7 linked regions of the Homo sapiens genome follow. The protein of the gene in region 5 purifies or fractionates together with the protein of the main gene of each other region. This does not show direct contact. Each region holds a gene or a part of one and is shown on either strand. Other genes may lie near its edges. The genes, in order: TMX1, KCTD9, FAM241A, NIPSNAP1, NRP1, ARK2N and PDGFB.

The links.
Region 1: the proteins of NRP1 (region 5) and TMX1 purify together in Homo sapiens (affinity purification with mass spectrometry; 3 studies listed by BioGRID and IntAct, with this or other methods). This does not show direct contact.
Region 2: the proteins of NRP1 (region 5) and KCTD9 purify together in Homo sapiens (co-immunoprecipitation; 3 studies listed by BioGRID and IntAct, with this or other methods). This does not show direct contact.
Region 3: the proteins of NRP1 (region 5) and FAM241A purify together in Homo sapiens (affinity purification with mass spectrometry; 3 studies listed by BioGRID and IntAct, with this or other methods). This does not show direct contact.
Region 4: the proteins of NRP1 (region 5) and NIPSNAP1 purify together in Homo sapiens (affinity purification with mass spectrometry, with the first as the bait; one large-scale study listed by BioGRID). This does not show direct contact.
Region 6: the proteins of NRP1 (region 5) and ARK2N purify together in Homo sapiens (affinity purification with mass spectrometry; 2 studies listed by BioGRID and IntAct, with this or other methods). This does not show direct contact.
Region 7: the proteins of NRP1 (region 5) and PDGFB purify together in Homo sapiens (affinity purification with western blotting, with the first as the bait; 2 studies listed by BioGRID). This does not show direct contact.

What each region holds. Positions count from the first base shown.
Region 1 is NC_000014.9:51,246,191-51,250,511, reverse strand, and holds part of TMX1 (thioredoxin-related transmembrane protein 1 precursor), read right to left. Parts: intron 3,421-4,321; coding exon 3,292-3,420; intron 1,187-3,291; coding exon 1,141-1,186; intron 1,045-1,140; coding exon 943-1,044; intron 820-942; coding exon 747-819; intron 1-746. UniProt on the Homo sapiens protein: Thiredoxin domain-containing protein that participates in various redox reactions through the reversible oxidation of its active center dithiol to a disulfide and catalyze dithiol-disulfide exchange reactions.
Region 2 is NC_000008.11:25,451,752-25,456,072, reverse strand, and holds part of KCTD9 (BTB/POZ domain-containing protein KCTD9), read left to right. Parts: intron 1-2,497; exon of another isoform or gene 2,498-2,529; intron 2,530-4,321. UniProt on the Homo sapiens protein: Substrate-specific adapter of a BCR (BTB-CUL3-RBX1) E3 ubiquitin-protein ligase complex, which mediates the ubiquitination of target proteins, leading to their degradation by the proteasome.
Region 3 is NC_000004.12:112,151,452-112,155,772, reverse strand, and holds part of FAM241A (uncharacterized protein FAM241A), read right to left. Parts: intron 1-4,321.
Region 4 is NC_000022.11:29,556,785-29,561,105, forward strand, and holds part of NIPSNAP1 (protein NipSnap homolog 1), read right to left. Parts: intron 4,045-4,321; coding exon 3,950-4,044; intron 2,170-3,949; coding exon 2,086-2,169; intron 1-2,085.
Region 5 is NC_000010.11:33,187,739-33,192,059, forward strand, and holds part of NRP1 (neuropilin-1 isoform a precursor), read right to left. Parts: intron 1-4,321. UniProt on the Homo sapiens protein: Cell-surface receptor involved in the development of the cardiovascular system, in angiogenesis, in the formation of certain neuronal circuits and in organogenesis outside the nervous system. Mediates the chemorepulsant activity of semaphorins.
Region 6 is NC_000018.10:46,243,118-46,247,438, reverse strand, and holds part of ARK2N (protein ARK2N), read right to left. Parts: intron 1-4,321. UniProt on the Homo sapiens protein: AMPK substrate important for exercise capacity and skeletal muscle function.
Region 7 is NC_000022.11:39,231,144-39,235,464, forward strand, and holds part of PDGFB (platelet-derived growth factor subunit B isoform 1 preproprotein), read right to left. Parts: intron 2,382-4,321; coding exon 2,292-2,381; intron 685-2,291; coding exon 479-684; intron 1-478. UniProt on the Homo sapiens protein: Growth factor that plays an essential role in the regulation of embryonic development, cell proliferation, cell migration, survival and chemotaxis. Potent mitogen for cells of mesenchymal origin.

The sequences.
Region 1 (4,321 bases), on a different chromosome or scaffold from region 5:
TCAAAAACAAACAAACAAACAAACAAACAAAAGACATAATAAATGAAGGAATATCAGGCCACAAGTCTGATTTAGTTAAAATCAGCTTTGTCACTTCTGTGTGACTGTGAACCTTAGTCTCCTCAAGTACAAAATGGGAGCAGTAACACCTATGCACTCTACTACAGAGGTGCTGAAGAGCAAACGAGGTAACAGATAAGTAAAAGTTCTTTAAGAACTGCAAATATAAATGCTTCCATTAACAGTACAATTACAAGATTGGTAAATGCTTGTAATTATTTAAATTGTTCTGTAGTACAGTTCAGTGTCAGTGGCATCCTAAATCAACTATAGGGATTGCTTTTCCCAATATCCTACCAGAAAAAACTTACAGTTGGCTGGCATTCAAAGAATAATCTTCAAATGTGGCGGCCGGTATACTAATGAAAGACTTCAAGAGTAGAATATACTCCACTTATAAAACGACACCAAATAAATATTATTAAATAGCTACATGCTATATGCAATGTTAAAATTCCCCATAATATAAGAGTCAAGAAAATAACAATGTTCCAAAATCCACTGGGCTACATTCTTATATGAAATATACATCTCCTCTACCTTCCTTTATGCCATAGCTGATAAAGACCAACAATCCACAGTTAGAATTCTAAGCTGGAAGAGCAACCTGTGAAATGTGTGATTGTGATTACAGAAATGAATAGGACTATCGTGAATAAAAAATAAACATTTTAAAATATACTTACTTGAAGGGTATGGGTACGGCTGTGGTCTGCGCCTTTTTGAAGGACAAAGGCAATCTGCCACAAATATCATACACTGTAAAAATAAACATTGTAAGAAATCTGAATGTAGAATATATGCCACAGCTAATGTAACTATTTTAAATAATCACATTTTTAAATATCTTTCTTCCTAGCACTCCAAAAATGAAATACTTACGAGTCCTAATAACAGTCCGGAAAACAGAGTTGCTAAAGCAAAAACAGTATATGATCCCCACACTGGCAATCCAAGGTCTTCAATAAAGTAGTTATGGCAAGTCTAAAATCAAAAGAAAAAAAAAAACTAAAAATCTGTTCATTTTTGTTAAAGTGATAGTGGTAAAAATGTTTAAGATAAAAATATTTTAGTCCATACCCTGATCCACATAGATAGCTGAAAGAGTGCTGACATACTACTCATCCTAAAAATAAAAGAGATGATTAAAAAACTGAGTAACATACACAGATTTGTCTATACATACTATTTTCTACTCTATAATTTCCCCAATATGACAGATTTTATTGCTGTTAATCAAGACTAGTGACACATCACTGATTTCATGCCTGTAATAAGCCTTCTTCATGAAAACTGTTTCTAAATTGACACTACCATGTGACAGCCTCATAAATAAAAATACTTGACAGTATTTTTTTCCTTTTCTCCCACTGTTTTGATGTTAATATTTTGTATTTCATCTGATGATTTCTCCAATACACTGAGTAAAGGGTTACAAGTTCCATGAAACCAGTTGGAAAAGGCAACTCTTACTCACCCTTAAAAGCCTTCAAAGCAAGACCAAAGGGAGGCTAAAGTAAGGACTGGAAACAATTGTCAAGCCAATTCTTTCCATTTAAGAACTATCCCTCTTTTTTATTGAAATTAATTAAAATTTACAAGAGCATTAGTTTGACATCTTTTAATGATATACAAAATTATTACATAGGAAATAAATGCTAAGTCATCATATAAGCAAAAATTAGTATTTTACATAATTAAATGGCCAGTTTTAAAAAGGCATGTTTCAGAAATAAGAAAGGTCTGTGAGTTCCCAATTGTAGCTGCTTGAAAATAGACTTACAAGCAACTACTTTCTTCTACTGGAAGGACAAGATTCATTTATGAGATGAGATTTCAGAGAACAAAAATCAGTTATACTTTTAGTTCGACACAGAAAGGTATTTTAATCATGTTGCTTCTGTTGTTTAAAAGCCAAGTGAGAAGAGAAACAAGGAACTGAAACATAAAGCACTGTATAGCCTCACTGTAGTCTGCAGTAATTTATTTCAGAAACAGTAGGATCCAAAATTGAGTTGGGCATGGTAGTTCAATGGGTGAGTGTTAACAGGGCTAATCTTTCTCCCATCCCCAGAATCTAGAGCATTTTTCTCTTATGTGATTACTGTCCCAACTCCCTATCCTCCAAAGGTAAGTGTGGTGAGAGGACAGGAAGAGACAGATGGCCACACAGGATCAGTCCATGGTGACCTCAGCAAAACTCACTGTTCCCAGAGGTCTCTCACATGACCAGTGAGGCCTTGTACTCCAACAGCAAAGCAGAAAGCATGCTTGCTACTTCCAATCCTTATCACTCCATAGCCAGTTGCTACGAGGAAATTCATCTACCCTCTAGATATCTATAAAGCTCAGTGCTTAGGCACACTATTACGGTCACCGTTTATACACACTATTCATATAAGAAGTTATCAGACAGGTGGAATAACCAACCAAACATAATTCAGTCGCTTGACATCAAGAGTTGAAGTTTATGTAATTAATTTAGTTGGTATCGGCAATTATTGACGGTCTCTATGGAGACAGAACATTAAAAGACAAATTGAAGTCTGGAGGTAGCATGAGTACAAGTTTGAGCCTACTCATTCAAATTATTACACTCGAGTGATAGCTTTACCCATTACACTGTGAAGACTCTTAGGGGCATTTAGTTTTTGATGATACATATGACCAAATCTAGCAAGCTAAAATATTCCTGAAAAGGTGTACAACTTACTTCTATAAAATGCCTTCTCTAACTCAAGAAGCATGAAAATATGTTTGACTTAGAAGGTCAAACTAAAAAGATCAAACATGTAGGCCGTGCATAGTGGCTCACACCTGTAATCCCAGCACTCTGGGAGGCCGAGGTGGGCAAATCACGAGGTCAGGAGATCAAGACCATCCTGGCTAACACAGTGAAACCCCGTCTCTACTAAAAATACAAAAAAATTAGCCACGTGTGGCGGTGGGCACCTGTAGTCCCAGCTACTCGGGAGGCTGAGGCAGGAGAATGGCGTGAACCCAGGAGGCAGAGCTTGCAGTGAGCCGAGATTGCGCCACTGCACTCCAGCCTGGGCGACAGAGCAAGACTCCATCTCAAAAAAAAAAAAAAAAAAAAAATCAAACATGTAATAAATGTGGATATACCTTAACAGCTCAAGAAACAAACTGAGTATGAATGCTTTACATAAAATATAATTATCTGTTCCAATTAATTATGAAATGGGTAAGAGAAAAAGCCCTCATACTTACAGAACAGAACCTGGACCAAACCATGATGAAACGGGCTCAATACTCTTCCACTCTTTATCACTTATAAAGTTTATGAAGTCCTTCTTAGTCCTTGGACCCTGATAGCGCCTAAATTCACCATCTTTACAACTAAAGAGAATCAGAATTAAATATTATCCAGCACTGAGAAATAATTTAATATTTATTTTGCTATTTTTTCACTTCACTTTACAGTCAATTCTAACATTCAAAAGCATTAGCAATGTACAAGTATTAATAGCAAATTATACTATTTACCTACTCATGACATTTTAGCCCCCAATTTAACAATGAGGTTACATTTTTTTAAATCATAAGCCTTAAAATGTAATTACTGTTATTCTTCCAAGTAATGAAACTATGAAATACAGTAAGTAGATAAATCTCAGGAAAGTACTTTTAAGCCTTATGTGTAATACACATATTAAAAGAATTATATAAAAATTATTAGAATAGTGCTTGGCACATAGTAATTATTAGCTGTTAAGCTATAACTTAAAATTTTAAGGCATTTTTCTAGTACTTTTGGCTATAATAGCATCACCTCAGACACCCTGCTTTAAATCACTGGAGGCATCTGGTATGGTGCTTCCCTTCCTCTCATTTCAGTGACTATTTAGTGAGCTTTGCAGCCTTCCTTAGATCCACCTCCTCCTTCCCATTCCCAATGTAGAAAGTTCTGTCAGAGTCACAAATGTTCTCTTGGCTCCAACATCTTTAAGTGCAAAAACTCATCAGCTCCCTACTAGGGACCTGTTAAGTAGGGTTAAGGGACCCTTTATCCACTCAGAGGTAAAAACCACGAGGAAGCCCCCCACCCCAAAACACAAAGTTTTTGTGAAGTGTCATTTGAGCTATTATTTGAAGCATAGGTAAGATTTCGACAGGCAGGAAACAGGAGAAAGGATATGGTAAACAATTTTGACTAAAAGAAAAAGGGCAGGAAATTCCAAATAAGGTCACAGGGCACTAAGAAGTGAAAAGCAAAGGGAGAGACTGAAGGGGCACGTGG
Region 2 (4,321 bases), on a different chromosome or scaffold from region 5:
TCGCCAGGAATTGTCTGTGTATTGAATGAATGTAACTAGTGGTGGACGTATTTGACGTTGGAGAGAGGGCTATGCATTCTCTAAACTGTGGTTTCTGGAGTGAGATGACACACCACAGACAGTGTCCAAGACGATTTATTGGAGGTCAGGAAGAAATATACCTTTTGTTTATATCTTACACTTAAAAATATAAAATAATGTGAAAACTTGATTTTTCCGATCTAGAAAGACACAGGTGCCTCCAGTCACTGAACATTCAGCTGGTCTCAGGTCTCCTGTAAGAAGGGACGGCCTTCACATGTGAAAAGGTTAATAGTGTCTTCTTCACAGATTGGTTGTCATTGACATTGTGATATGGAAGCTTACAACCGGCACATTAAGATTTATATCTAGTTTTAACCAAATTAACCCTCACCAAAATGCCAAGTGATCTTAAAGGATTACTTCAAAGAAACTGCAGCTTGAGACAATATTAATTATGCAAGCACAAGTAAACAATGAGGAAATGGCAGAAGCTGCCACTTCTCCTAGTATGTATAAACCATGAGACTAAAAAAAGAGTGGGTCTCTTTGGACCTGAGAAGTTGAAACAGTGCTGAGTTTTAAAGAAGAATATTTGAAGTCCTATTTATTAATTGCTATTAATAATCAGCCTCTCCCTAAGTGTATGTTATTCTTTGAAATATTAGCCATTGATAGGATGAGTCATCCTAGTTAGCAAGATATTTAGAAATAAGTTCTAGTGCATGAAGACAAATGGCTTCAGATTTTTTTCTTTTCTGATTTTTTGGTTTTTGTTTGTTTTTTACTTTTATTTATTTATTTATTATTTATTATTATTATTTTTTGAGACGGAGTTTTGCTCTTCCACCCAGGCTGGAGTGAAGTGGCGTGATCTCAGCTCACTGCAACCTCTGCCCCCCAGGTTCAAGCGATTCTCCTAACTCAGCCTCTTGCTTAGCTGGGATTACAGGGGCTTGCCACCATGCCCTGCTAATTTTTGTATTTTTAGTAGAGACGGTTTTCACCATGTTGGCCAGGCTGATCCTGAACTCTTGACCTCATGTGATCCACCTGCCTTGGCTTCCCAAAGTGCTAGGATTACAGGCGTGAGCCACCATGCCCGGCTTATTTTAATGTTTAAAGTCAATCCTGTATTTGGCAGAATTTCACTAAATTTAATGATAAATATTTAGGAGATTCTTAGTGGCTAATTCATAGTCTGAGTCACTGAAAGTCCTCATCATTTGGGAAAACATGTACTTTCTAACAGTGGAATGTAGTTCATAAATACATAAATATACAGATGTTTGAGTACATGCCCAAAAGTATGTTACCAATGGGGTGTGTGGTCAGAAACATTTGAAGGCCTTAGTTCTAATCACTGGAATCTTTGGTTTAAATTTTGAGGGTTTTTTTTGTTTTTGTTTTTTAAAACTGCTCCGAAAGAGTCAGTTATGTTGTTTGTACCTGTCATCCTTTTTCCATGTGCCTCAACATTTTCGTTATTCTTTTTAATATTCCCTGTAAGAGTTGGCATTAAGGAAATTGAAATGGGGACTTGCACATCTGCATGCAGTGTGTGGCTTCTGAGCAACTTAATGTCAGTGCAGAGTTTCTATACGTCTTGAACACAGAGTGCTTTTTTTACTTCAGAATATTCAATAATGAGCTGTGCAAGTCCTAGGCCTTTTGTATACTGATTAATTCATCATTCATTCATTCATTCATTCAGTGAACACTTAGTAAATGCCTTCTGAGTATGTGGCATCATGCCAAACATGGCAAACAGGGTAGGAAATACTTTCATTCTGTACCGTGTTTTCATTCTTGGTCCAAGAAATAACTTTTCTTCAGGTTTTGGTATTAGGTCAGAAACATGTTGGGGGCAGGCACAATGGCTCATGCCTGTAATCCCAGCACTTTGAGAGGCTGAGATGGGAGGATTGCTTGAGTTCAGGAGTTCAAGACCAGCCTGGGCAACATAGTGAGATCCCATCTCTAAAACAACAACAACAACAAAGAATGAAAAAGAAATATGTTGTTAGTAGTAAGTATCCAGGTTTGAATCCATTACGTTGTTAGAGTTGGAGAAAGGTGAAAATTTATCTGAACCTCTGCCTCTGAAGGCTAAACATTAATAAGAACCTAGTGAGGGCCCACTTTTTAAGCTTGAACATTTCTTAATATATTTGATACATAGAAAAGAATACAATAAAGAATATACATAAAAAGAGGAACATAATATAGCAAACATCTGTAAATCTGCCAGATAACCCAAGAAGTAGCATGTTATCAATAACATAATGTGTTTATCCACGTTCCTGTACTCCTGTTTTGTTTTTCTCTTTGCCGTGTGTTTTTAAATAGTTTTGTCACATATATATGCATAACTAAATTACCTTTTTTTTTTTTTTTTGAGTCGGAGTCTCACTCTGTCGCCCAGGTTGGAGTGCAGTGGCATGATCTCTGGCTCAATACAACCTCCGCCTCCCGGGTTCAAGCAATTCTCCTGCCTCAGCCTCCCAAGTAGGTGGGATTACAGGCGCCCGCCACCATACCTGGCTATTTTTGTGTTTTTAGTAGAGACAGGGTTTCACCATATTGGCCAGGCTGGTCTCAAACTCCTGACTTCGTGATCCGCCAGCCTCAGCCTCCCAAAGTGCTGGAATTACAGGCTTGAGCCACCGTGCCCGGCCCTCACCTTTTTTTTTTTGAGACAGAGTCTCGCACTGTCACCCAGGCTAGAGTGCAGTGGCGCGATCTTGGCTCACTGCAACCTCTGCCTCCTGGGTTCAAGCGATTCTCCTGCCTCAGCCTCCTGAGTAGCTGGAATTACAGGCACGTGCCACCACTCCCAGCTAATTTTTGTATTTTTAGTAGAGATGGGGTTTCACCATGTTGGTCAGGCTGGTCTCGGCTGACCTCCTGATCTGCCCGCCTCAGCCGCCCAAAGTACTGGGATTACAGGCGTGAGCCACTCTGCCTAGCCACTAAGTTACATTTTTAAAAAATCAGCTTCGGGACATACGGTATCTCAAATTGATATTATACTGTATATAGTTTTTTGTGGAGACAATGTCTTCCTATATTGCCCAGACTGGTCTCAAACTCCTGGCCTCAAGCAGTCCTCCTTCCTCAGTCTCCCAAGGTGCTGCGACTACAGGCATGAGCCATCATGCCAGGCCAGTCCTTGCTTTTTTCGTTCAATATAATTCTCTTCCAACCATAATATCTGACATAGTGATAATTTATTCATTTTTACTGCTTTATTAAAGTACATGTTATACAAATACTACCATGATATTCCTGTCAGTGGACATTAGGTTGTTTATTTTCTTTATATTTTGTTGTTAAATTGACAGTGCTGTCATGAATATTTCTGTATATGTATCCTGGCACACAGCAGCAAGCATTTTTCTAGGGAGGTAGTTAATCAAACTTTAGCATGCATCAGAGTCACTTGGAGGAGGAGGAGGACTTGAGAAAACTGCTGGACTTCATCCCCAAAGATTAATATTCAGTAGGTCTGGGGTGGGGTAGGAATGTACATTTTTAATTTGCAGGTGAAATGTGGTTCAGATGCTGCAGGTGACAGGATCACACATTTGAGAACCACCACTCTAAGGTATAGACACATAGTTGTAATTATTGGGTGTTAGAATATGTAAATATTCAGTTTTGCAAAATAATGCCAGATTGTTTTTCAAAGTCATTGCAGTAATTTATATTCCCACCACCATTGCATAAATCTTCCCTATTGGTCCACATCCACTCCAACACTTGATATTACCAGTATTTTCCATTTTAAAATTTTCTTTTTTCACCTTAGAGTTAATTATCTCATCTTTTTTTTAAATTATCTCATCTTTTAAAGAATAAGATCATGTAAATATTTAAAATGTATTTGACTAAAAGTATAGGTAGAGAAAATTGAGTTCTGTATTTAGTTACTAGTGGTGATTAGTGGTTTTGTTGGGTAAATCAGCCTGCATAAATTCAACAATTTATGTGTATTGTATATTACATAATGCACAATAAATACTTGTGTATTTATCATAACAACTTTTTGCAAATTAATTTTTTTATTGGACCTTTAGGATCCAGGCAGACAGCCAGATTAGAAAATATTTAGTGATATGGTAAATTGTTTTTGATACTTTATTAGGATTGATTAAAGTGGCAATAAAAGTTGAATTCAAATACACAAATACTTGTGTATTTATTGTGTATTATGTAATAAATCTTGTGGGTATAAAAGAAAAAAATATTTTACATGCATGTGCAGGTTTTAATTTTTAAATTTAAATAATACAGGTTA
Region 3 (4,321 bases), on a different chromosome or scaffold from region 5:
AACCCACACCATTCATCTTTTTAATCTTTGACAACTTGATAGGTAAAAAATCATTCCTAATTGTTTTAATTTGCATTTCTTTTCTTTATAGTGAGGCTGGACATATTTTTCTATTTATTGGACTCTACATGAAGTTGCAGTTTTCATTTCCTACAAAACGTTAAAAAATGATATAAATTAAATGTAAAAATGTACTACCTATATAAGGCTTCATCTAATAATAGCATTATATTATATTATATAATTTATAACTTATCATTATAACTTGTTTGTCACTTATCAGTAAATGAAAAATTATAGCATTGTTTTATACTTACCTCCCACTAAACTACATAGACCCAATAAAAGAAAAAAGATTTTTTTGAGGGGATGGATAAAAACAATGAGAATATCAACTAGAACTTAGTCTTTGAAATGATTATAAACAGAAAAATACCAAAATTTGCATTCATTTTTCATTTTAACTACCGGGCTTCAATATTTTTAAAATTATAAGTCATAATTGCAGACACACAAATGAAACCACCAGGTAGTCAAAAAGATACACTCAATTTCAGTAATATCTAACAGACGTATTGGAACAGCTGCCTATTGTAGAGAAAGAAATGGTTATGCAATGGAAAAATAATTAAATAAGAGAAGGGCTTTTCATGAACTAATGATATATAACTGTGGGCCACGAACTCAAGAATATGCCTAACTCAAGCCTCTTTTTTTGTGGCGGGGGAGGGTGGTGGGCGCAGACGGAGTTTTGCTCTGTCGCCCAGGCTGGAGTGCAGTTTGCGATCTTGGCTCACTGCAACCTCTGCCTCCTGGGTTCAAGCGATTCTTCTACCTCAGCCTCCTGAGTAGCTGGGATTACAGGTATTCCCCACCATACCCGGCTGATTTTTGTATCTTTTTGGAGAGGCGGGGTTTCGCCATGTTGGCCAGGCTGGTCTCGAACTCCTGGCCTCAGGTGACCCGCCCACCTCAGCCTCCCAAAGTGCTGGGATTACAGGCATGACCCACCACACCCTGCTCAAGCCTCTTTCTGATTTCAAACTGCAGGTTAAGACATTTCTACATTTTATACTTTTTCAAGAATCTACTTTTTTAAAAAAAAATATGAAATCTCTGGTGACATTACTTAGTACCTTGCATATGCAGGACAATATGCTAGATGCTACTACAAGATGGGTAAACTTATCCATTAAAAGTAGCCAGGCTGGGCACGGTGGCTCATGCCTGTAATCCCAGCACTTCGGAAGGCCAAGGCAGGGAAATTGCTTGAGGCCAGAAGTTCATAACCAGCCTGGGCAACACGGCAAAACTCCATCTCTACTAAAAATACAAAAATTAGCCAGGCATGGTAGTATGCACCTGTAGTCCCAGGAACTCGGTAGCCTGAGGCACAAGAATTGCTTGAACCTGGGAAGTGGAGGTTGCAGTGAGCTGAGATCCTACCATTGCACTCCTGCTTGGGCAACAAAGGACTCTGTCTCAAAAATAAAAAAATAAGAAATAAATTTTAAAAAATAAAGTATCAAACTTAGGGGAAAAAAGTAGTCAAAATCAAATATCTCTCCTGAAAAATGACTTTCCTTCTCAATTCTCAATTTGTGGCAGTGAAAATTTCGCTTCTGCTGTTATTACCTCTAAAACTCATGGAATAAGAAATCCTCAATTCAGTCAGACTGATGGAATTTGCAATCATGCAACATCAAACTTAAATTCCCTACCTCTGTAGGCCATCTGCAGACATTCAAGTAAAATTTAATTAAGAGGATACAAAACAAAAATTAAATTATTTTGGATTAATTGGAAGAGGAAATAAAAGAAATTCTCAAACACAGATATTTAAAAAGTTACATGAAAATAAATACTGTAAAAACCACAATGGGAATTTAACTTTCTTAACATTATGTTTAGATATTAAGTATTAATGATAATTTTATCCTTTATTTTCCATAAAGTTAAAAACATTTGTACCATGCTTTCCTTTTGATTAGAACTCTGATAAGCTGCAGTTGTTGCCCTAAGAAAACAGCAAGAAATAAAGCCAATCACTTCCTCTTCCTATGCCAAGATAAGACTCAGCTGCCAATGAAGTTAAATGGCTGGGGGCGGTGCCGGGGGAAACACTGGGTATGGGGAAAAAGATCAGAAGATAGAAAGTATCTTCTGCATCAGGTTGGTTAGAAACTCGGTTTATCTGCTCAAAAGAAGCTACATTTCAAATGTCTTATTAATTCTCTCAAACACACATAAACACAATGAAATAAAACATAACTAGTAGGAACAAGGTTTTCGGAGATAGGTGGCTGTTACTGGAAGATAAGATTATGACTCCAGAAAAGACAGAAAATGAAGACAGTGTTGCTAAGTCTTAAAGAACACATGAATAGAGACACAGAATTTCTACATATTTCTGTTACAGCAAGACTGATGTCATGGTACTTTGAGTTTTTCCTTTTAATCTTGCCTTATCACTTCTTTTGAATAGGAAACTGAGAATAGTTTGTACAGAGGAGGTGGGTATTTTTCCTCTCAAGGATTAGTGAGCAACAAGGGGGAAAAGAAACCAACTAGAGATCTACATAAAAAACAACATAATTTAGGTTGACAGGTTTAATTTTTTCTTTAGAGATTGTCTATTCTAAACATTAGATACATTGTTTCACAATCTTAACACTTTGTTCAATAAATATTCTATAAATTTGAGAATTACATGTACTAAAAACACAGTTCTATGATGTGTTAGTTGAGGGAAATAAGGGGAGGAAAACCAGAGAAAAAGAAGAAAAATAGAAAAGGTGAGGGAGAAATAAGGAGCAAATATTTATTGAGTGCCTCCATGTGTTAGGCATTTTACATACAAAATGAGACTGAATCCTCATAAAAACTTTAAGAGGTGGGTAGCATCATACCCATTACAAATGAGGAAATTGAATCTCTGACGGATTAAGTAATCAGGATCACGGGGGCTAATAAAGAGTAAAACCGGGATTCAAAATTAGATCTGTCATACTTCAACCCCCTTTTCATTGTTTCATAATGCTCAGCTTCTGCACTGAAGTGGAAGAGGTAGGGGAAGATGTATGCAGAAGAAGAGAAAGTGGTTGAGATGCGTGGGGAGGGAAAAAACACATGAGAGAACGAGACTCAACAGAGACAGAAAGGAGATGGGTGGTAGGAAAGAAAGGCAGAAAAGGAATGTGTGAGAAAGCAAAATACAGCAAGTTGCATACGAGGAGCTGCTAGAAGAGACACAGAGAAAAGTTTGAAATTCTGTTTAAAATACAGGTTTCAAGCAAATAAACAATTTTAACCTATCTATTGGAATATCTATTATCAGAGTAATTACTTTTGACAACTCAAAGGACTGTAACCCTTACATATTTTGAATATTGTTTCTCAACTTTGGCACTATTGAAATTTTGTGCCAGATAATACTTCGCTGTAGGGGACTATGGCATTATACGATGTTTACCAGCATTCCTGGCCTTTTCCTATTAGATGTCAGTACCACCTCCTTAGTTTCAGCAATAAAAAAATGTCCAGACATTGTCAAATGCCCCCTATGGACAAAAGGCCCCCAGTTGAGAACCACTGATTTAGAAGTTCCAGTCTGGATGATTTAAAAAAATGAACAAAAGATGCCTATCAAATGCAAAATTATTCCCTGAGTTACTCTAGTGACTGGATGTCCTTAGGAACAAGATGAGATTAAGTTAGGGCAGAATTCAACTAAGCTCATAGCACTTATTACAATATTGCTTGCAAACTGCTTTTAAAATACGTGAAAGGAAGTGAGTATAAACTAATATTTAGTTTTGAACTACACCATCTAAAGTAGGGCAGAAAATTTGTCAGACTGTTTTTCCATCATGTAATGTGCTTTTTGTATTTGTGAAACAAACAAACAAACAAAAAACACTAGCTTTGGTGTTCGGAAACCTGGGTTCTAGTCTGCTCTAGCATGAGTTAGCTGTAGGACCTACAGCAAATAACGTGGCCTAGGGAACAACTATTGGCTTCTCATATTTTACCAAGAGTTTAAATATACACTTCTAAGAAAATAGTTAAACAACTTCATATGTATATATTACTGATACTATGTTGAAGGGCAAGTGTGGTGAATACAGTATATTGACTTGCTTATTCTCCATTCCCTTGCCAAAATGTGGTCCATGGGCACAGCATCAGCATCACTTAGGAGTTTGTAGAGATGCAAAATCTCAGACCTCACTCCAAACCAACTGAATCAAAATCTGCATTTAATAAGAGATGATTCCTATGCACACTGAAGTTGAGGAATACTTGTGTCAGTTTCCATTGC
Region 4 (4,321 bases), on a different chromosome or scaffold from region 5:
TGTTGCCCAGGCTGGAGTGCAATGGCACTATCTCGGCTCACTGCAACCTCTGCCTTCCGGTTTCAAGCGATTCTCCTGCCTCAGCCTCCCGAGTAGCTGGGATTACAGGCATGTGCCACTATGCCTGGCTAATTTTGTATTTTTAGTAGAGACAGGGTTTCTCCATGTTGGTCAGGCTGGTCTTGAACTCCTGACCTCAGGTGATCTGCCCACCTCAGCCTCCCAAAGTGCTGGGATGACAGGCGTGAGCCACTGCGCCCAGCCGAGATTTGTCATTCTTAACAAGCTCCCAGGGGATGCCAATACTGTCAGTTGGGACCACACTTGATTTTTTTTGTTTTTTGTTTTTTTTGAGACAGGGTCTCACTCTGTCTTCCAGGCTGGAGTGCAGTGGCAGGTTCTCGGCTCAATGCAACCTCCGCCTCCTGGGTTCAAGTGATTCTTGTGCCTCAGCCTCCCGAGTAGCTGGGATTACAGGCTTGAGTTACCATGCCTGGCTAATTTTTTTTATTTTTAGTAGAGACGAGGTTTCACCATGTTGCCGAGACTGGTCTCCAACTCCTGGCCTCAATTGATCCACATACCTCAACTTCATAGTGCTGGGATTACAGGTGTAAGCCACTGTGCTTGTCTTGTTTTTTATTATTTTTATTTTTTATTTTTGAGATAGGGTCTCACTGTTGCCCAGGCTGGAGTGCAATGGCACAATCATGGCTCCCTGCAGCCTCAAACTCCTGGGATCAAGTGATCCTCCCACCTCAGCCTTCCAAGTAGCTGGGACTACAGATGGGAAACACCACGTCCTGCTAATTTTTAAAAAATGTTTTGTAGAGATGGGGTCTCCCTATGTTGCCCAGGCTGGTCTTAAACTACTGACCTCAAGTGATCCTCTTGCCTTGGCCTCCCAAAGTACTAGGATTTCAGTTGTGAGCCACCATACCCAGCTGGGACCACACTGAATAGCAAGGCTCCTGCTAACTCCTTCAGCAGACACATTCTCCCTCATACCACCTGGTAAGTGATCACTGTAAACTTCTCAATGGCAAGGACAGGCTCTTGTTCATTTATGTGCCCCTCAACCACCTACCTACCACAGTTCCCGGCACACAGTGAGGGCTTAATTAACACCCACTGACTCTAGGTGGTTTCAGGTTCCTAGCAAAGTGGCAAACACCTTGAGCAAAAAACTTGTTCAAGGCTGGGCACAGTAGCTCATGCCTATGATCCCAGCACTTTGGAAGGCTGAGGTGGGAGGACTGCTTGAGCCCAGGAGTTTGAGACCTGCCTGGGTGACATAGTAAGACTGCATCTCTACAAAAACAAAAACCTTATTCAAAAACATTTCCTGCATGCTTCCTTTGTGACAGACACTGGAGAAAGCACTTTTCATAAATGAGTTTGTGGGCCAGATGTGGTGGCTCATGCCTGTAATCACAGCACTTTGGGAGGCCGAGGCAGGCGGATCACCTGAGGTCAGGAGTTCGAGACCAGCTTGGCCAACATGATAAAACCCCGTCTCTACTAAAAATACAAAATTAGCTGGACATGGTGACACACGCCTGTAATCCCAGCTACTCGGGAGGCTGAGGCAGGAGAATGGCTTGAACCTGGGAGGCGGAGGCTACAGTGAGCCAAGATCATGCCACTGCACTCCACCCTGGGTGACAGAGTGAGACTGTGTCTCAAAAATAAATAAAATAAAATAAAATATAAAATAATAAAATAGTTTGTAGAATCTTCCGTTATAGCCCTCTGACAGAAGCACTATCACCATCACTATCTTACAGACGAGGGAACAGCCTCAGCGAGGTAAAGAACCGTGCCCAAGGTCACAATGGGCGTTTGCTAATCCACATCTCCTAGGCAGAGGCGTGGCCCTGGCTATGTTATCATCCCCTAGAGTACTCACCTAGGCCTGCTGGTATCCTATGGAGTGTGCCACTTGGATAGAAACCCATTAACTCATTGTCTTAAAAGTGAGTTCCCCATCACTGGAGGTAATCAAGAAAGACTAGATCTCCTTGCAGAGAGGATTCCATCCTCAGACAGGGTTCTCAGCAGAAGACCTCCAAAGGCTTCACTCACCTGTATAGTAGACATTTTCATCCCAGCCTCTCTTCCTCCAGGCAGCGTTTCGAGTCTCCTCCCGAGACTGCAGGTCTTTATAGGCTGTGAGAAAGGCACAGGCTCATTCCTCAGGCACAGAGGACTGGATCCCTTACCCAGCACAGGGCCCTCTTCCCACTGTCCCCTAAACCCTGCACTGCTGTCTCCTCCTCCCTAGATGCCTCCCTCAGACTATTAGCAAACACTGTCTGCTTTAATCATCCATCCAATCAGTACATATGTTAATATTGCCTACATTTATATTTCTAGTCGCAAACACTCCCAAGGGCTCCAGACTCCTATATCCATCTACTGCCTACTTGACATCTCTACTTTGGTGTGTCAGCATTTTTAGTGTTAACACTTCCGGCTAGGTGCGGTGGCTCATGCCTATAATCCCAGCACTTTGGGAGGCCGAGGCTGGTGGACTGCTTGAGGCCAGGAGTTCGAGGCCAGTCTGGCCAACATAGCGAAACTCTGTACTAAAAATAGAAAAATTAGTTGGGCATGGTACTGCATGCCTGTAATCCCAGCTACTCAGGAGCGTGAGGCACGAGAATCACTTGAACTTGGGAAGCGGAGGTTGCAGTGAGCTGAGATCACACTACTGCACTCCAGCCTAGGTGACAGAGCAAGACTGTGTCTCAAAGAAAAAAAAAAAAAGTAACAATTCCAAGGGCCAAAATTACGCTCCTGACCCCACTGACTTGCTCCTTCCCTAGACCTCCCAGACTCAGGAGATGACACACAGCAGCTCAAGCACGAGCCTGGGAGCTCTTCTGGAATGCCCTTCTCCTTCTCTTGCCCCACACAGACAATTCATCCACAAGTCCTGTTGGTTCCACCTCTAGACTAACAAATCTTCTGTGGACTTCTCAGCATCCCACTGCCCCATCCCCTCCTGCCTGAACTAGAGTAATGGCTTCCTGAAGCCCTGCTTTCTCTCTTGCTCGCCTACCAAGCACTCTTAACAAAGCAGACAGCAGCCAGAGAAATCATACTAGAACAAAAATCAGGTCGTGTCACTGCTATTTGAAACAAATAGTCTCTCATTGCATTTACAATAAATCCCAACTCATTCCCCCTCTCCTGTTCCATCTCCCCACATTCTTCCCTACTCACTCCACACTGGCCTCCTTGCCACACCTCAAAACCCCGAAGGCCTTTCCCCACCACAGGGCCTTTGCATGTGCTGCTCTGTCTACTTGGAATGCTTTTGCCTAGCAATTCACAGCTGGCTCCTTCTCATCCTTTAGCTCTCAGCTTACATTTTACTTCCTCAGAGAGGCATTATTTGTCTACCTAGACCAATGTAGATCCCCTATGTTTTTCACCATCATCTCTCCCTGCCTTTTTTTTTTTTCTTCTTTTTTTTTGAGACGGAGTCTCGCTCTGTTGCCAGGCTGGAGTGCAATGGCGTGATCTCAGCTCACTGCAACCTCCACCTCCCGGGTTCAACTGATTCTCCTGCCTCATCCTCCCGAGTATCTGGGACTACAGGCATGCGCCACCACGCCCAGCTAATTTTTGTATTTTTAGTAGAGATGGGGTTTCACCATATTGGCCAGGATGGTCTCGATCTCTTGACCTTGTGATTTGCCCACCTCGGCCTCCCAAAGTGTCGTGATTATACACTTGAGCCACCGCTCCCAGACTCCTTGCCTATTTTCTATAAATATTATTTGTAATCTGAAATTGATCTTTTTGTGACTTTACATCTAAGATAGTGTCTCCTGCTAGAACATTAAGTTCTATGAGGACACTAATACAACCCCATTGGCTACAGAGAGTGATGACAGAGAAAGAGAACTAACAAAAGGCTCCTGGAAGGTCCTCAACCTACCCCAGAGATGGTGCACCACGTAGAGCTCTCCTATCTGTGAGAAGAAGCCGCCCACTGCCTCCTGGTTCTCCTGCCGGTACTTGATGGCCCGAGCCCTGGAGAAGGCACAATAATATGGGGCAGAAGCCAGGGCTGGTGCAGAGGGTACTGAGGCTGATTCCTTGGCCACACTTCACAGGAGGGGCCTAGGTGGAACCCACGGTCCTCCGGGATGCTGAGAGAAAGGACTGATGGCGGGGTGTTCTACCAACGGAGGGGTCACAACCTTCTAGGAGATCCTCACCTCCTGGCTGGATCCTTCTCCCAGATCCATGAGGGGCAGAAGGTAAAGAGTTCCCTGTGATATGGCCCTGGAAAAGGTGGCCCACCAGG
Region 5 (4,321 bases):
GGGCAGCAAGAGGTTGTGTTTGTTGCCCAAGAGACTTGTGTGTTTGCAAGGTGCTTTCTCACTGTGCACACGTGGGCACATACTCCTTTCCGCTTGCCTGTGTCAACAGTGTCCAGGTGGATGTGGACGTGTTCATGGGCAGCTTCCTTTCCTTACCTGGTTGCTTATGTGAGAGCCCGCCCTTCTTCAAACCAACGGGTGGAATCATAAAGGAAGGGTGTTCACAAATGGCAGCTCTAGCAGTAGGTTTGATACTGCAGGATGAATGTCCCTCTCGCTCTCTGACCTTGCAGGTGTCCTCTGTGACTGAGCTGATCCATTCACACTTAGGATTTGTTTTGCCCACTAATTTATCAAGATGTGATTACTTGTCTGTGGGATGGTGCCATTTCACTGTGATGAATCCACCACGATGGGAAAAAAATACACCCATCGTGCCTCTGTCCCCTCAATCTTACGGAAAAAAGACTGAAATTGGCAATGCTGCTGCCATGTCTTAATCCCACTTATTGAGCTCATTGCTCAAAGTTTATTGAGGCTAGTCAGAGAATGGGTGTTAGAAAGAAGGAGAGAAGTGGACGTAGGTAGAGGGATGCTCTCCCATAGGACATCCTCACTCAACTGCACCATAATCACTTCCCATCCACAACTAGACAGTAAGTTCCTCAAGCACAGAGACCCCCTCCTTCATACCTGTATTTCCAGTGCCCAACACAGCACCTGCCATGTAACAGGGCTTCTCAAATGATGCCTGTTCAGTGCAGTAGGAGAGATGCCAGATTTCAAGAATCCTCTGCCTGAGGAAGTTCTTATGGTCCCTGCCTTCTCACACTGTGGTCTTTAAATATGCTCGTGTGGCCGGGCGCGGTGGTCCACGCCTGTAATCCCAGCACTTTGGGAAGCCGAGGTGGCTGAATCACCTGAGGTCAGGAGTCCGAGACCAGCCTGGCCAACATGACAAAACCATGTCTCTACCAAAAATACAAAAATTAGCCGGGCGTGGTGGCGGGCATCTGTAGTAGCTCCTACATAGCTGTAGTCCTAAGTAGCTGGGACTACAGCTACTTAGGAGGCTGAGACAGGAGAATCGCTTGAACCTGGGAGGTGGAGGATGCAGTGAGCCAAGATCACACCACTGCACTCCAACCTAGGCAACAGAGACCCTGTCTTAAATATATATATATATATATATATATATAAATTAAAACTGCTCGTGTTGCTCCTCTGCTTAGAATTCTTCAGAGGCTGCTCACTGCCTGCAGCCTATCCACACTTCTTCACAAAGAGGGAGCGCTGGCAGCCCCTCCAATGGACCTTTTATCCACCCCCATCCTGTTTTCCTCCTGGTCACTGCATCACCAACTTAAGGTATAGTATAAAGAACCAGCAGTGTCCTGCCAAACACACACACACACACACTCACTCACAATAAACACCCGATCCACAAACTTCTGCTCTACTCAGTGAAAATGGAAGGAATCCAATTTCATCAATTTCCTTGTCAATCTCATTAGGCAAGGAGGTAGTTCCCAAAGTCATGCACACTCTGCCTCTATCTAACTGCTTCCCATACAAAAACCTGTGCAAAGCACACCAAACATGAGCCAGTAAAATAAGCCTAGCTCAGCCGGTGTCTGAGACAGGGCTGCTTTCCTTGACCCCTCTTCCGTCATCTTTTACATGGTCCATTGTCACTGGCCTCTGCCATTGGAAGCCCTCACTGAACTGCACTGTGGTTGCTTCCCAACCATGATCAGACTGCGAGTTCCTCAAGCGTAGGGACCTCTTCCTTTACACGTGTATTTCCAGTGCCCAAGTCAGCATCTGCCCTGTAACAGAGCTTCTCAAATACCACTTGTTCACTGAACCAGGGAGAGATGCCAGACTTCAGGAATCCTCTGAAAGGAGGTACCTAGTTCCATTCTTTGAGGTCAAATGCAGAAAACCAAGCAAATGGGATGCCTTTCGATAAGCAGCAGGATATTTTACCTAGCTAGTGTTCATTTTCTTTTTAAACAACCCAATGTCTGGCTTGCAAAGTTTCACCAAATAATATTATAAAAAAAGCACCATCTACTCTCTAATGTCAGTCTATGCGCGGGAGCTTCGTGAAGGGCTCTTTTCATCTGGATCTTTTTCCCGTTAACAAGTAGTTCCTGCCTTTCAGATGTCGGGCTCACCCATCTCTCTACACAAATGATTGTGTTTCTAGAACTGCAGGGGCTCTTTCTAGTCGGAGCTGACCTGGCACAACTGCCAAGTAAATCTGGGTGGCTGAGAGAACAAAAGAGTCAAACCCTTCTGAAGGAATCGCACTTCTCAGCTGTTAATCTACGACAAGCTCTCCTTCTCTGATACTCTAACACATAAAGCACTGATATTTTCCCTTTCAAGGGTTTTATCACAGTTCTGGGTCAGGAACTCTGTCTTCATTTTCTCAATTAGCACTTTACTTCTGCAAGCCTTTTAGCTTTTGTCTCTGGCTAACATAGCTTTTAACCTCCTTTGAATGTCAGATCCTACTGAGCCATTTTGCTTCACTTTGCATCAATTTTTCCACCATTACTGCCTTCATTTTGGCTAATTGCATTTAGTTAATTTGATGCCATTTATATGTACAGTGCCATTTACAGTCAAAGTATTTTAAGTTTTCTAAAACTGCCTGTCTTAAGATTCAATTGAAAGTGTCTCAGATTTGAAGGAGTCCAATTTTATCCAATTTCCTTGTCATTCTCATTAGGCAAGGAGGTGGCTGTGGTGGAAGGAGGCCTATTCAACCTATTTAATGGTTATATTCACTGGGAGAAAAGTGAACCACAAAATGGGAAAGGCATGAAGTACCCTTGGCCCAGCCTTCAGTCCACTGACTCACTCACCCAAAGAGCCAAGATGGGGAGAATTTAATGAGATTTCCTAGCATCAGCAAATGCCCCCCTGGGGTACCTTTTGGGAAGCCACTACTTGAGCAAGCAGTGCTCTGTAAGTATTTCTGAGTGGGTGCAGAAGTTCATGGATTGGGCGTTTGTTGTGAGTGTGTATATGTGTGTGTGTGTATGTGTGTGTGTGTGCATGTGTGTTGGGCCAGACATGGCTGGTTATTTCTTTATTTTTAATTTTTATTTTTTTCTCTTTAGAGACAGGTTCTAATTCTGTCACCCAGGCTGGAGTGCAATGGTGTGATCATAGGTCACTGCAGCCTTGAACTCCTAGGCTCAAAGGATCCTAAAACAGACTCTGAGTAGCTGGGACTACAAGTGTGCGCCCTTATGCCTGGCTGATTTTAAAAAAAAAATTTATTTTGTAGTGTCAGTATCTTGCTATGTTGCCCAGGCTGGTCTCTAACTCTCTAACTCAACTGATTCTCCTGTTCTGGCCTCCCAAAGTGCTGGGATTACAGGTGTGAGCCACCACGTCCAGTCTGCTGGTCCTTTATACTGTACTTCAAGTTGGGCAGTGAAATGACTAGGTGGGTAGCAGGAAGGGGGCAGATAATAGAGTTCACTGGAGAAGCTGCCAGCTTTTTCTGTCCCCCAACCCATTCCTCCCCCACCAATTAATCTTAGGAAGAAAGTAAGGCAGGAGGTGGTGGGAGGGTTGTGATCTAGGGCATGGTGAGGTTTCTACCTGCTCAAAGGAAATACACTACACTTTCAATCTTTCCCCAGTGAATAAGAATTCCACACCGTCTTTCCCCACCTCCCCTTCAAGGGTCGGGAGAGAGCAAGCATTGTGAATTGTTTCTTTAGTTGTAAAATAAACGAGGGGACATAATATATGCTTGGACTTGTTTGAAAATAATTCAGAGTCAGGGATGACAGACATAAATTAAGTTTCCTATGATCTGATAATTGTTGAAGCAGGGTCGTGCACATAGAGAATTCATTCTACTATTTCTTTTCCATTTGTGAATATGTTTGAAATTGCCCAAAATAAGAAGTTCAGAAAAAGTATAAGATGAGGCTAGTTGCGGTGCCTCACACCTATAATCCCAGCACTTTGGGAAGCTGAGGTGGGTGGATCACAAGGTCAGGAGTTCGAGACCAGCCCGGCCAATGTGGTGAAATCCCGTCTCTACTAAAAATACAAAAAATTAGCTGGGTGTGGTGGTGTATGCCTGTAATCCCAGGTACTTGGGAGGCTGAGGCAAGAGAATCGTGTGAAGCCAGGAGGCGGAGGTTGCAGTGAGTGGAGCTAGTGCCACTGCATTCCAGCCCGGGCAACAGTGTGAGACTCCATTTCAAAAAAAAAAAAAAAAAAAAAAAGGATAAGATGAATGCTAATTCATAGATCCTTGCCCAATTTGCTGTTTTCAAGGAGGCCA
Region 6 (4,321 bases), on a different chromosome or scaffold from region 5:
AATTCTTAGTATCTCTTTGCTCGGTTCCTATAACCATCGTTCTAATTTATAATTCTACCCTCTCTAGCAGGAATGTTTTGTGAAATATCTGTCATCAATATTTCTGAATAACCAGTCTTCACTGACTAGGACCCTGCCATCCTCACCTTACTACCTCCAATAGCCTTATTCCAGAGCTAGAAATGTCATCACTTTATTTTTTATGAAACGAAAAGTTACTATGCTACTTTTGTTAATTTTATACTGTCTTTTAAAAAAAAAACAAGGTACCATCACCAATATTTCAGATTCTTCTAACTTTATTCATTCATTATGGATCTAGAAACTAGTAATATTCCTTCCACATTGTTAGATAATCCAAACAATTCTGGTAGTGCAATTTTTGCCATAAAAATTGCAATCCAAACCTGCTGGTATTTAACATGGTTACAAAACCCAGATGATATGCTAAAACTGGTCACTTTAAATTGGGGTCTGCTATTTTTTTTTTTTTTTTTGAAATGGAGTTTTGCTCTTGTTGCTCAGGCTGGAGTGCAAAGATGTGATCTCAGCTCACTGCAACCTCCACCTCCCGGGTTCAAGCGATTCTCCCACCTCAGCCTCCTGAGTAGGTGGGATTACAGGCATGCACCACCACGCCAGGCTAATTTTGTATTTTAGTAGAGACGGGGTTTGGCCATGTTGGTAAGGCTGGTCTCGAACTCCTGACCTCAGGTAATCTACCCGCCTCGGCCTCCCAAAGTGCTGGGATTACAGGTGTGAGCCTCCGCGCCTAGCCTAGGGTCTGCTCTTATCTGTAATGCTTGGTCAATATACTAGTGCAAGATAAGAGGCATGAGAAAGTGATGGGGGTGCTAAATACAGACTGCCTCGTGAATGTTAACAACTCCTAGACTAATAGTGTGAGACATTTGCCAAATTTCCTGTCAGAGCCTTAGATAAATTGTGCCACACAGAAAACAAATCAGCTAGGACCCACACCAAGGCAATGAGATGCCGTGCTCTACAAGAGACACCAAAGGCATTCTGGGATGCCTCTGCCTCTTCCTTCTTCTATTTCAGAGCCAGGACCATTAGTCCTTTTCTGTCACTGTAACCCTCTTCAGCATCCCACACATTCCTTTGGGAGCTCCAGTATAGAACCTGACATTCTCTGGCCTTTGGGCCTTTTCTGCTCTGCCCCTCCCCACCCCGCCTCACCCCCCATGGAGGACTTCACAGGATTCCAATGGCAGAACAGTGCCTAAAGCATACAGAAAAGTGAGCCAAAGATGCTATGAGGTTCTTCAAATACTGTCAGTGGTAGTAATCTTTTCCAGTTCTAAGACAAGAACAAGCCCTGTAGAGAAAAATGTAAATACCGCAATTACCATATATTAAACTGAAAATAAAGCAGAGCACTTATATTTAGCTATTGTGACAGCTGGCTGTCTCTGTGTAGGTCTCTGCCTGTGTAGGTCTTTGGAAAGATAACTTCTTTCACTATATGAGAAAATTCTAAATTTTGTCCTCCCACTACAGACCTTTTCAACAAGAAAGGGTAAGAAAAAGTTACCAAGAAAAGGTAGTTATCAAAATAGGGTAAGAAAAAGAAGCACAGAAAAAGTAGTAACTAAATTATCATGGAAAACAGTTTCTTTCTGTCTTTAAAGGAAATAATCCAGCTACTTTTTAAACTGTAAATCCACTGGGTAAGAACTAGGCCTGAGCTTTGCAACACACTGAAGAGAAAGTAATACTACATACTGTATGACAGTCGCATGCTAGGCATAAAAAAAATAAAAAAATAAGTCACTACTCATTTAGCTTTAAAAACAGCAAATTACTACTTTTAGTTCTTTTTTTCTTTCTTTTTTTTTTTTTTTATTGAGACAGAGTCTCACTCTGTCACCCAGGCTGGAGAGAGGTGGTGCAATCTCGGCTCACTGCAACCTCCACCTGCCGGGATCAAGCAATTCTCCTGCCTCAGCCTCCCAAGTAGCTGCGACTACAGGAGCCCACGCCACCGTGCCCAGCTAATTTTTGTATTTTTTTTAGTATAGATGGGGTTTCACCATATTGGACAGGCTGGTCTCGAACTCCTGACCTCGTGATCTGCCCACCTCGGACTCCCAAAATGCCAGGATTATAGGCGTGAGCCACAGCACCCAGCCTACTTTTAGTTCCTTAAACAGCACGTTAAACAACCTTAAAAAGTGAAGGAAGAGGGCTGGACATGGTAGCTCACGCCTGAAATTCCAGCACTTTGAGATGCAGAAGTGGGCAGATTACTTGAGATCAGGAGGGCAAGACCAGCCTGGCCATCATGGTGAAACCCCATCTCTACTAAAAATATAAAAAAATTAACGGGGCGTGGTGACGGGTACCTGTAATCCCAGCTACTGGATAGGCTGAGGCAGGAGAATCACTTGAACGAGGAGGCAGATGCTGCAATGAGCGGAGACTGCCACCGCATCCAGCCTGAGCGACAGAGCTGGAATCCATCTCCAACAACAACAACAAAAAAGAGTGAAGGAAGAGCTCAAAAATCTAAAATCTGGCTGGGTGTGGTGGCTCATGCCTGTAATCTTAGCACTTCGGGAGGCCAAGACAGGCGGATCACTGGAGGTCAGGAATTCGAGACCAGTCTGGCCAACATGGTAAACCCTGTCTCTACTAAAAATACAAAAATTAGCCAGGCGCAGTGGCACACACCTGTAATCCCAGCTACTTGTGAGGCTGAGGCACGAAAATTACTTGAACCCGGGAGGCAGAGGTTGCAGTGAGCCCAGAATGTGCCATTGTACTCCAGCCTGGGTGACTGGAGACTCCCTCTTAAAAAAAAAAAAAAAAAAAAATCTAAACTCTTACCATCAATTTGATGCAGATAAACATGAAGAACATGACCATACTTCATCTCCTTCACTATACTGATTCTGAAACATGGCCATTCTGGTCTAATTATTAAAAACCCTACACTAGGAACAGGAAACCCAGGATTCATTTCTCTGTACTGCCACCATGTTAGGGACAAATCAAGATTACCATCCCTATTGTAAGGATGGGGAAAATGCTCAGAACCTACCTTCTTGACAAGAAGGCTGATGGAAAAGATAAGGTATTTAAAGTTTTAACTTCCCAGGGAAAAAAATCCTAAATAAGTTCAGTTTACCACAGCTATAAGCCTTCCTCACCAAGACTTCTGCTTCTTCTTGCCCCAACTACATTTGTTTGCAGTGAGCCCTTACTAGCAACAAAAATGAAGCCATTTTCAGATATATTAATACAGTTTCCTAAACATGCTGGATACAAGAGTTACCTGAGGCTATTATTAAAAAGAGATTCCCAGAAACCATTTCAGATTTATTGACAGAATCATCAGGAGAAACCTAGGAGTGTGAATATTTATAAACACACTGGGTAATTTCTACGCTCTGGCAAAATTTAAGAAGTACTTGTAGCAAGAGCAACTCGTTGCAGTGCAAGAGAGTAATTAGAAATCCAGTGACTGAGCCACTAATCACTTCCTTACTCAGTCTACTTCAGCATATTAACATAATGCTGGTTAGCATTTCTGAGGGCCTACTATGTGCTGTCCTCCGTAGTAAACACACTGTATTTCACTTAGTGGTAACAATAACCTTTTGGAGTAGATACTATAAAGGTTGTGCCCCAGTTTTGTAGATAGGGAAAACTGAGGCTTTATATAATTTACCTGAGGACATGCAGTTTCTAAGTGGCCACTGGTTCAAAATCACCCACTACAGTGTTCAATTCCAGCATCAACTTAAAAAAAGCAAACACATGGCAAGAATTGAAATGGAAAATTCAGGTCTTTTGTTGATCAGTAGCTTCTCTAATTTCGACTTACTTTTTAATCCCTGCATGTGGTTCAAGTCTTTTGCCTAGGTTAAAACTAAAACTAAATATATATTTTGGATGCAAGATAATCATCTAATTGCTTGGAAAAAGGCAACCTACTCTATCTTTAGTGCGTACCTATGTGATCCTAAATGGGATGGGGCTGTGGACCTGGGTTGAGATGCTGCTGTTGATTAAAGTGAACCCCTGAATAGTCTGCTCAATAACTAGGCTTGCTATTTTGTTGTGAAAGGGAAAGACAGGACCCAGATTAACCATTAAAATTTTAACTTACACTCACACCATAAGAATGACCATCTGACTAATAGTCCAAGCCTCAAAACTATTAACTGGCTCCTAAGCATAAATTCTATTAATATTTTATTGAGACACTGTAAGCACATTCAGATATCTTCACAAGATGAGTTCCACTATGATAATCACATCAAGACTACAGTATTATTTTTATTTATTACCCACA
Region 7 (4,321 bases), on a different chromosome or scaffold from region 5:
AAGAGAGACAAGCAGGTGTCAAAGATGCAGGGCCACCCATCTGAGCCTTTCTCAAGACAGCCCTGAATAGGGAGAGCTTTGGGGGAACCTGAGTAGCTCCCCAAAACATTCTGAGTGTCAGATAAATGTTTGCGGATACGGCTCTTCAAGGGACGTTTTGCGATTTTGTCCTTGTAAAGGAGGTGACATCCCTACTTCACGTTGGCTCCACACCTCGCCCAGCCCGGGGGGTCTGTCTGTGGCTTTTGGCTACAGTGGCCTGAGCCACCTCAGAGGACTCATGGTCGGCCTCAGTCCACCTGCCTAGGAAGAGCTTCCCAAGAGTGGGCCTCTCTGGACAGAGCCCAGGAACAAATCAGGAATGTCCTTCGACACACCACTCTGCCCAGTCAAGGAAGCCTGGTCAGGTATGAGCCCCAGAAGGGTGGTCTCCACCCACCACCGGGACCAGCCTCGGGGGGCCGCGGAGCCTACGCACCTGGACAGGTCGCAGCTGCACCTGGGTGGGGCGGCACTGCACGTTGCGGTTGTTGCAGCAGCCGGAGCAGCGCTGCACCTCCACACAGGGCGGCCACACCAGGAAGTTGGCGTTGGTGCGGTCTATGAGGCGCCGGGAGATCTCGAACACCTCGGTGCGCGTCTTGCACTCGGCGATCATGGCCGGCTCAGCAATGGTCAGGGAACCTGGGAGGAGACGAAACCTGGGTCAGGAGCGTAGGCCTGTCCAGAGTCCCCCCACTTGGCAGGGGAGCTCAGCGGGTGCCTCCGGGACTGCTCTTTCTCACGCCCTTCAACCCCAGGGTTCAGGTTTCAAGTCCTGGCTGTCATTAGCCATGGGACTTGGGCAGATGGCTGAGCCACTCTAAGCCTGTGTTTCCCCATCTGAAAATGGGACCATGAGATCTACACCCAAGAACCACTGTAGTTTCAAGTGAGAAAATTCAGAGTGTGGGGCATGTTGTAAATGCTTAGTAAATGTCCGCTTCCCTCTGCTGGCACATGACTATTTTATTCTTCTTTATGATTTTACACATTTATGGGCTTGCCCAACATGTGGTTTTTATGCAGGTACCATATTAGCTCGAAACCACGCGTGCACTGCTGTCTCACGGTGCCTTGGATTCCTGCATCACTGCTGCTTTCAAAGCCTCAGCTTCCTCCTCTATGAAATGGGATAATAACAGCACCTCCCTCCCATGTGGATCTAAGGTGTAAAGTGAGTAAGCCTTGCCTACAGCAAGCACTGAGGTTACCGATGCTATCCATGTACAGAGGACAGGAGGCTCTGAGAGCTGAATATCCCGTCCGCCCACATTCATAGATTGGGGGTGGAACTCAGGCCACCTGACTTTTTTCTTTTTTTTTGAGACGGAGTCTTGCTCTGTCGCCAGGCTGGAGTGCAGTGGCGTGGTCTCGGCTAACTGCAACCTCCGCCTCCCTGGTTCAAGCAATTCTCCTGCCTCAGCCTCCCAAGTAGCATGGACTACAGGAACCTGCCACCACGCCCAGCTAATTTTTGTATTTTTAATAGAGACAGGGTTTCACCATGTCGGTCAGGATGATCTCCATCTCTTGACCTCGTGATCTGCCTGCCTCAGCCTCCCAAAGTGCTAGGATTACAGGCGTGAGCCACCATGCCCGGCCCAGGCCACCTGACTCTTATTCATCGTTCCCCCAGCCTCTAACTGCAGTGTTTTGGGGACTCCAGGTGTCAAAGAGGAGGAGGGGTTTGAGTGGACATTTGCCTCACCTGGGAGGGTTTCTCTGGGACCTAATGATCTACGGTCTCCTTTAGGTCTCTGCAAGGGAGCAGGAGGAAGTTCCAGGCTTTGCTCGAGGTCTACCAGCCTAGGCCGCGGCCCTTTGCCACAGGAGATACCCATAGCCCATCAGGGACCACGCTGGGTTCAAGTGAGGGGAGCAGGTTGGGATCTCAGCCCTACCGCTCCCTAGCAGTGTGACCTCGCCTAGTTCTTTACCCTCTCTGGGCCCCAGTTTCCAACTCTGTGAAATGGGGTTAATAATATCTACCTCCAGGATTGAAATAAGGAACGAATGAGCTTTGCAGCACTATATTTAGAAACCAGAGAGTGTGGGGGCGAGGGGCTGTGATGACTGAACACAGGCATTTAAGGATGGTTTTACTCTCTCAGTTCGCTCAGTCCTGAATGTGGGGGGAACGGGAGTTGTAAGAGGACCCTCGGGGCCCTCCGACTGGCTGCCCGCCCCCGTTCTCTTTCCCTGGCCCCCATGCTAATTTGAAGGACCCTTGTTGGGTGTCTCAGTCTTACCCAGGCTCCTTCTTCCACGAGCCAAGCTCTCCAGCTCGCCTCCAGAGTGGGAGCGGGTCATGTTCAGGTCCAACTCGGCCCCATCTTCCTCTGCAGGAGAAGTCACAGTCAGACACCAGGCGGCCCCACCTTGGGCAGGGGCTCCCTCCGCCGGGGTGTCTGGGCAGGCGGGAGGTTTGCCTCTCCCCCACTCCAGAGAACAGTCCCTCCTTCCAGCCCCCATAAATGCACGGGTCCTGGCCCTGAGCAGGGACCCTCCAAGCAGCCCCCAGGACAGCTGCAGGCCCAGGATCCTGACTGCATCCCTGGCTCTTTAGCCAACATTTTTGGCCAGAACCCATGTCAGTGGAGTTAAAAATAACCCTTCCCCTTTGCTACTGTAAGTGAACCCTCCTCGGCCTCCAGGGCGGGGCCGGGACCTAGGGCACTGAAGGCCAGTTTCCAGTGCCCCTCCACCCAGCGTTCCCATAGGAAGTGCTGAATGGAGAAATTCCCAGAAGCCCCAGGGGGACCGCATGCCCTGAACACAGCCCCTCTGGAGCCCCGGACAATGGCCGCGCTGGGCAGGCGGGAGCCACGGAGGGAGGGAGGGAGGGAGAGGGATGGGGGTGGGAGCTGAAGACAGAGAAGAGGAGAAGAGGGGTGGGAGTTGGGCCTGCTGGGGGTGGGGAGTCCCTGCCACACACCCTTCTAGGGCCTGGTCTCTCTAGCTCCGGGGCCCTCACACCGTATCTGTATCTGTGTCTGTCTCCCTCCCCTTCTCTAAACTGTTGCCCCACCTCTGCCCCCAGCCGTCTGTTGATTCCTCTGGTCACAAATGACAGCTCCCTTTTCTAGCCTGGGCACCATCTCAGTCCCATCAGCCCTCCTTGGAGACATCGGTCCTTTCCAGAGCCCATGGCCAGAGGTTGGCTGCTGGGAAGTGAGGGCTGAGGGAGGCCTCTGAGCTGGATGTTAAGGCGTGGACAGACCCTTCTGTCTCTCTCATGGGTGAGGAGCCACAAATAAACTAAGGGGCATTGGGAACACGCTCCTGCCACCTCCACACAGCACCCCATGGCTCCAGTTCTGGCACCGACCCACTGGCCCCATCCAAGACAAAGGCGCCTGCCGCCTGTCCGTCCCGGGTACTGCAGGGAGTCTGATGACTAGTCCGCTTCCGTCCAGCCTGACAGCCCCTACGTCAACGAGCCTATCTGTCCCTCTGGCTCCTTTCCTTTCTCCCTGCCATCTCTGGAATGTCCCTGGTGGGGAGGAGATGGGGAAAAGATGCGCTTTGTGGAAAGGTTAAGTTGATTAGGAAAAAATAGCCACATGGTTGCCTTGAAACAGGCCTGCTATTGAAACCTCATCTCCAAGATCCCGACCCCCACCAGGGGTGTGGAGGGGCCGTCTGAGGGTGGGGGTGTAAAGGCTTGGAAAGAAATGGTAGAAAGGCTAAATTTGGAAGTTGCCCCATTGTGTGTGGCCAGGGGCGGCCAGTCGGGCATAGGGTGGGGGTTGTGGGAGACATCGGGTGGGGGCCCTGGCGAACAATAGGTGGGCCCAGCTGGGGCCCCCTCCTGCCTGCCTCACCGCCCCCCAGCACAGGCGGGATTGAAAGGGCCCGGGAATGCTTTTGAGAGGGAGCCAGGGGCCCAACGGGGAGAGGAAACAAAGGCAGGAAATGCTGTTCCCCCGTAGATAGCGTCTGGGCAAGGATTACAAAGTGACAAAGAGACAGAACCCCAGAGGGAAGGGGACCTGGGGGTGCAGGGGGGCTGCTGACCAGGGCTCCAGGGAACAGGCCAGAGGTTAGAATAGAATGGAATTTGCTCTGAAGACAGCGTTTATAAATACATTGTCAATCCAGCCCGCCAGCCCCGCCACGTGTGTGCCACCGAGCACGTGCCCATTCGCTGAGTGAGCTCTGGGGCACGGGCAGGGCTGCCTGCTGGTCGAGGCCAGGTGTCCCCAGGGGACCTCACAGACCGGGCCCCTAGCCAGAGGGGCGGGGAGATGACTCCTCCAGTGCCACCCTCCCTGGCTGG